Regions from separate parts of the Homo sapiens genome. Here region 1 is reported to be linked to region 2. Evidence: microRNA targets listed by miRTarBase, many of them from high-throughput screens and not tested one by one. Region 2 holds a microRNA gene; the other region holds the end of a gene's coding sequence.
The links. The annotated mature microRNA hsa-miR-4722-5p reads GGCAGGAGGGCUGUGCCAGGUUG and lies in region 2 at 1,676-1,698, shown strand. An mRNA with a match to its seed (bases 2 to 7 or 8) in the 3' UTR can be bound and repressed. Matches are read on the target gene's strand: a 7mer-m8 pairs with bases 2 to 8, a 7mer-A1 pairs with bases 2 to 7 and ends in A, and an 8mer does both.

Region 1: miRTarBase lists NOP14 as a target of hsa-miR-4722-5p. Seed matches in the 3' UTR shown: 7mer-m8 at 2,427-2,433.

The regions. Positions count from the first base shown.
Region 1 is chr4:2,935,998-2,939,110 of GRCh38, forward strand. It overlaps NOP14 (NOP14 nucleolar protein), which reads right to left. Exons shown (of 18, transcript NM_001291978.2): 18 at 1,939-2,933. The coding sequence ends at 2,834. NOP14-AS1 (NOP14 antisense RNA 1) reads left to right here. Exons shown (of 4, transcript NR_015453.2): 1 at 1-2,145; 2 at 2,696-2,795. Among named protein-coding and RNA genes, the nearest start is that of NOP14-AS1, 2.0 kb to the left of the region's middle. RefSeq lists enhancers at 1-865, 668-907, 1,378-1,797.
Region 2 is chr16:88,714,768-88,718,012 of GRCh38, reverse strand. MIR4722 (microRNA 4722) reads left to right here and starts at 1,676; the gene lies at 1,676-1,735. It overlaps CTU2 (cytosolic thiouridylase subunit 2), which reads right to left. Exons shown (of 15, transcript NM_001012759.3): 13 at 3,087-3,153; 14 at 2,907-2,965; 15 at 2,617-2,831. The coding sequence ends at 2,762. PIEZO1 (piezo type mechanosensitive ion channel component 1 (Er blood group)) reads left to right here. Exons shown (of 51, transcript NM_001142864.4): 45 at 802-990; 46 at 1,115-1,207; 47 at 1,282-1,454; 48 at 1,530-1,652; 49 at 1,736-1,815; 50 at 1,894-2,080; 51 at 2,159-2,675. The coding sequence ends at 2,408.

The DNA of each region.
Region 1 (3,113 bases), not on the chromosome of region 2:
CCTGGGGATTAGCCTGCTTTTGTGGGACCAACAGATTAGCCACAAGATTAGAAACTACGGTTGAAGAGTCACGCAGCGGGAGGCTACAGGATTCTGACCCTCCCCAAACTGCTCCTGGCGATAACATCACCATCGTAAAGCCTAAGATCAGCACTTGGTGGGTCACCTGGCACCACCCAGGCTCATCTGATGTTGTGGCACCCAGGAACTGACTCAGTGCGAAAACAGCTTCGACTCCCTGTGATTTCATCTCTGACCTGACCAATGGGTACTTCTGACTCACTGGCTGCCCCCCACCCACCAGCTTATCTTTAAAAACTCCAAACCCCAGATGCTCAGGGAGACCGAGTAATAATAAAACTCCAGTCTCCCACACAGCTAGCTCTGCGTGAATTACCTTTTCTCTGTTGCAAATGCCCTTTCTTGATAAATTGGCTGTCTAGGTAACAGGGAAGGTGAACCCACTGGGCAGTTACACTTTTATCCACCCTTCCAGCTGGATCACGCGCCCTCTTCAATGACATGACACGCAGCTAGAGTGTATGAGCTTGCTGCCGGCACCTTCCGTCCTGGATCGCATAGCAAGGCCTCAATGGACAGCCAGGTGCCTGGTCCGGTCCCACTTTTTTTTCTGTCCTGTTCTCGTTTCCTCTTTGCTTGGCCAAAGAGGGTTGGGCCAGGGTCCTGAGTGCAAAGGCTTGGCTTGGTGAATTAAAGTGGCAGTAGCCGTGTGGCAGAGAAAATTTGTAGATGGGTGAAATCCTGGGCCTACACAGTGACAAAGTGTATATAGACAGCCAGCCTAGTTGGTGGATGTGACAACCCCAGACTCTTCTAGATTTGTGGATCCGTGCACCTGCCAGACCTGTCTCTGAGCCATCTGGGGAGGCTGGGTAAGATTTCCCCCGTCAGGGCCTGAGCCTCATCTCCAAGCTGCTGGCTTCAGCCCAGCTGCCACCAGCGCTGTCTCTGTCTTGCGCTTTCCAGAGAGAGACTGACTCATTTTGAGCTCCAGGCCTACCAGGCAGCCCAACCGCGGCAGTAACTGCCTCTCACACTGAGGATGGCTCATGCTCTGGTCCAGCCATGGCTTGAACACCTCCCAACAAGAACAAAGCCAGACTCATTCTCCCTAGCATCTTCTTCCTTGCTCAAAGATCCCACACCCCGTTAGAAGCTGGAACTGGGTCCTTGTCACCTTCCTCACCTCCCCAGTCGTAGTCTGGTTAATCCTTACATCTCACCACGGTCACCGTGGCTAGATGTGACCTCCGCGATGCTTCAGGCACGTACCAGGGCAGCCTGGGCAGGGCTGGTCACTGTGATCTCATGAGGTGTGAACTTGACCCCGGCCTTCTTTCCTGGGATGCCGGCTAAGGACACAAGTTCAGTGTTTGCCCTGGCTTGTAGCCCAGCGGGGGCTCCGTCATCCCCTGGGGAATGCCTCGGCCTGCAAGACCGCATACCGCATTGGAACAGGGAAACCACCTACTTCAGCACCTCCCTCAGCAAGGTGGCAGGTCCCAACAAGCCTTGCACCACGAGGAAGTGGCAGTGGCATTCGGGATATGGCTCCCTGGCCAGCTTGTGAAGTTCAAGGGGCTCGTTACTTCTTACAGCTCACAGTCCCTCCCGGGTCCAGCACACCTGAGGGCTGACCTCCCTCTTGATTAGTGCAGGGGAAAAGCACTTTAAAAAGCTGTGTCATGCGTAACTTGCACATCTTCTGATTCTGACCTGAAACTGCATCCCAGGTCGGCACAGACGCAACCCAGTCTCCTCCCACCTCCGAGAGTGCAGTGTCCTGAATGGAGAACCCCAGCACCCAGAAGCATCCACTGAAGGACGTAAGTAGGACAAGGCCAACTGTGGCTGTTCCAGCAGAGGGACTGTGGGTGATGTTTCCCTTCTCTGATTTCTAAAATATCTGCAAACTTGTTTCATTTATAATTGAAAATATAATTTGCATAACAACAGTAAATTCTACACATGAAGGCAAACGTCCGTGGTTGACAGAAATTACACTGGCCAGAATCCCCAGTCCCCATGAGGCTTGTCCAGACGCAGTGAACCAGTCGCAGCTGATAACACACAGACCATTCCCGATCCCAGAGGTGCATTTCAGGATTCATTCTATTTCATCAGGTGACGTTTTAACAGAAACAAAACCGCAGGCAGCGGGTGGGGGGAGCTGGAGGTTGGAATCACACCAACATTATAGCATTATTACTCTAAAAAAAATTACTTTTTTGGCTGGGTGCTGTGGCTCACACCTATAATTGGGGGGCCAAGGCAGGTGGATTACCTGAGGTCGGGAATTCGAGACCAGCCTGACCAACATGGAGAAACCCCGTCTCTACTAAAAATACAAAATTAGCTGGGCGTGGTGGCACATGTCTGTAATCCCAGCTACTCGGGAGGCTGAGGCAGGAGAATCGCTTGAACCCAGGAGGTGGAGGTTGTGCCATTGCACTCCAGCCTGGGCAACAAGAGCAAAACTCCGTCTCAAAAAAAAAAATTTTTTTTTAAGCGACACAGTCTTGCACTGTGGCCGAGGCTGGAGTGCAGTGGCTCAATCACGGCTCACTGTAACCTTGGACTCAGCTCAAGCAGTCCTCCTGCTTCAGCCTCCCGAGTAGTTGGGACTACAGGTGCGTGCCACCACACTTGGCTAATTTTTATGTTTTTTTGGTAGAGACGGGGTCTTCCTGTGTTGCCCAGGCTGGTCTCGAACTCCTGGGCTGAAGCAATCTTCCTGCCTTGGCCTCCCAGAGGGTTGGAATTGCAGATGTGAGGTAATGTCCAGTTCCTTGCCTTATTTATAAAATGTAATTTATTTTTTGAACTTTTTCCTCTTCAGAGCCTTCCATTCGCCTTCCTGTGTAGCCAGGCTGTTAAAAAGCTGCTTTACTTTCCGCTTTCTTTCCGCATCCCTAAAAGAAACAAAAGGCAAATGCCCATTTTTGGATTAGTTCTTGGAGAGCATCTTGCCCTCTCTCTCCCACATCAGAACCACATTAGCCACCGTGGCCACGTTCAGTTCAAACAGGGGGAAGTGAACCTGCCTGGCTCCAACCCCCAGCCAGAGCCAAGGCTGTGGGATGCCAGGTGCC
Region 2 (3,245 bases):
CTCCCAGGTTCAAGCGATTCTCCCACCTCAGCCTCCCGAGTAGCTGGGACTACAGGTGTGCACCACCAGGCCTGGCTAGTCTTTTGTATTTTTGGCCAGGTTCGTCTCAAACTCCTGACCTCAAAGTGCTGGGATGACAAGTGTGAGCCGCCACACCCAGCAGTTGGGTTGTTTTTTATTAGAGTTTTTTCTGTTTTTCTGCAGATACATTGGCTAGAAATGACTGAATTGGAAGAATTCTCTGTATTCTCTGGTTGCTAGAACCTTATCAATTAAAATTTGCAGAAAATTTCTCCAATTCTATGGACTGTCTCTTAAATTTTCTTGGTGTCTTTGGAAGCACAAAGTATTTATTTTGGTAATATCTGGTTTACTTTGTTTCCTTCGCCAAATCCAGGTTCATGAAGATTTGCCCGTTTTCTTCTAAAAGTTCTATAGTTTTAGCTCTGAAGTTTCGCTCTTTGATCCACTTTGAGGTAAATTTTGGCACATGGTATGAGGCAGGAGTTGCGTTTCATTCTCCTGCCTGGGGCGGTGCCTGCACCGTGTTGAAAAAGGTTGTCCGTTCCCACTGAACGGTCACAGCTCCCTTGTCTAAGATCAACGACCCCTGAACATGAGGGTTCCAACTGGACTCTTAGTTCTACTCCACTGGCCTGTGTCTGCCCACCATTACTACCGCTGTGCCATACTGAGGTCAGGCTGGGGCTTTTCTGGGCTGCTGGGTGAGCTGGAGAATGCGGTTGTGTGACCCGCAGGAAGGGCAGAGCTGAGCGTATGACCTGTGTCGTTCCCCTCCAGAAATACCCGCAGCCCAAAGGGCAGAAGAAGAAGAAGATCGTCAAGTACGGCATGGGTGGCCTCATCATCCTCTTCCTCATCGCCATCATCTGGTTCCCACTGCTCTTCATGTCGCTGGTGCGCTCCGTGGTTGGGGTTGTCAACCAGCCCATCGATGTCACCGTCACCCTGAAGCTGGGCGGCTATGAGGTGAGCATGTGTGGGTCCGCCTGTCCATTCCCATCCCCTGGGGGTTCTGGCCAAGGTGGTGCACCACCCCCAGCCGCTCCTCCACGCTCATCTTCGTGGCCCCGTGTCCCCGTGCCTGCCCCAGCCGCTGTTCACCATGAGCGCCCAGCAGCCGTCCATCATCCCCTTCACGGCCCAGGCCTATGAGGAGCTGTCCCGGCAGTTTGACCCCCAGCCGGTAAGTGGCCTCTGCCCTGTGAAAGCTGGTGTGGGGAGGCGGCTGCAGTCACTGAGGGTGTCACTTGTACCCAGCTGGCCATGCAGTTCATCAGCCAGTACAGCCCTGAGGACATCGTCACGGCGCAGATTGAGGGCAGCTCCGGGGCGCTGTGGCGCATCAGTCCCCCCAGCCGTGCCCAGATGAAGCGGGAGCTCTACAACGGCACGGCCGACATCACCCTGCGCTTCACCTGGAACTTCCAGAGGTTCGTCCTGGACTTGGGGCAGTGCCTGGGTGGGTGGACCCACTACAGTGGGTCACGCTGTGTTCCCACCCCCAGGGACCTGGCGAAGGGAGGCACTGTGGAGTATGCCAACGAGAAGCACATGCTGGCCCTGGCCCCCAACAGCACTGCACGGCGGCAGCTGGCCAGCCTGCTCGAGGGCACCTCGGACCAGTCTGTGTGAGTGAAGGGCCCGGGTGGTGGGCAGGAGGGCTGTGCCAGGTTGGCTGGGCCAGGCCTGACCTGCCAGCACCTCCCTGCAGGGTCATCCCTAATCTCTTCCCCAAGTACATCCGTGCCCCCAACGGGCCCGAAGCCAACCCTGTGAAGCAGCTGCAGCCCAGTGAGTATGGGCGTGGGGGTTGGGGGAGGCTAGAGAGGGGTGACCTGCGGCCTCAACGATCTTCTCCCTCCATCCCAGATGAGGAGGCCGACTACCTCGGCGTGCGTATCCAGCTGCGGAGGGAGCAGGGTGCGGGGGCCACCGGCTTCCTCGAATGGTGGGTCATCGAGCTGCAGGAGTGCCGGACCGACTGCAACCTGCTGCCCATGGTCATTTTCAGTGACAAGGTCAGCCCACCGAGCCTCGGCTTCCTGGCTGGCTACGGGTGAGTGAGTGGCTGGGGGGGCACCCCGCAGCTCGGGGGGCTCCGGGCGGCCCCAGGACTCACCAGCTTCCCCCGCAGCATCATGGGGCTGTACGTGTCCATCGTGCTGGTCATCGGCAAGTTCGTGCGCGGATTCTTCAGCGAGATCTCGCACTCCATTATGTTCGAGGAGCTGCCGTGCGTGGACCGCATCCTCAAGCTCTGCCAGGACATCTTCCTGGTGCGGGAGACTCGGGAGCTGGAGCTGGAGGAGGAGTTGTACGCCAAGCTCATCTTCCTCTACCGCTCACCGGAGACCATGATCAAGTGGACTCGTGAGAAGGAGTAGGAGCTGCTGCTGGCGCCCGAGAGGGAAGGAGCCGGCCTGCTGGGCAGCGTGGCCACAAGGGGCGGCACTCCTCAGGCCGGGGGAGCCACTGCCCCGTCCAAGGCCGCCAGCTGTGATGCATCCTCCCGGCCTGCCTGAGCCCTGATGCTGCTGTCAGAGAAGGACACTGCGTCCCCACGGCCTGCGTGGCGCTGCCGTCCCCCACGTGTACTGTAGAGTTTTTTTTTTAATTAAAAAATGTTTTATTTATACAAATGGACAATCAGAGGCCAGTCCCCCGTCCTTGCCTTCCGGCTCCAGTGTGGTGTACCAGGTGGCCACTGCCTGCTGTCCCGGCAAGCACGTCCTCACGCTCAGCTCTGGCCCGCCTCGTCGTCACTGTCCTCAATCAGACAGTCCCGGATCTCCTGCAAGCCCCAGGCCCTAGAGAGAAAGCTGCAGTGGGCACCAGCCCCGAGGCCCCTTACCCACGCGCCACGGCAGTGTGGGCCCCAGTACCTCTGTGTGCGGAGCTGGGCCTCAGCCAGGATGTACGGCGGCAGGGGGTCCAGTGAGGGCTGCAACAGAGGCCGGTGTCGAGGGGCCAAGAAACCTGCCAGCACCCCCTCAAGCCACCCACGAGGTGACGGCCTTCCCGCGTCCCCAAGCCCGGCCCAGGACAGGTGGGCACGTACTCACCAAGTCCTTCATGTTCACGCGGCAGCTGTAGCACAGCTGCTCCTCAATGCAGGCTTGGGGGTCCTCCCTGCGGGAGCAGAGCTGGCTGTGTGCCCACCTTGGCACCTCAATGCCGTGCAGTGTGGGGTAAGGACAGGTCCCCCTCCCGCCCCATGCAGC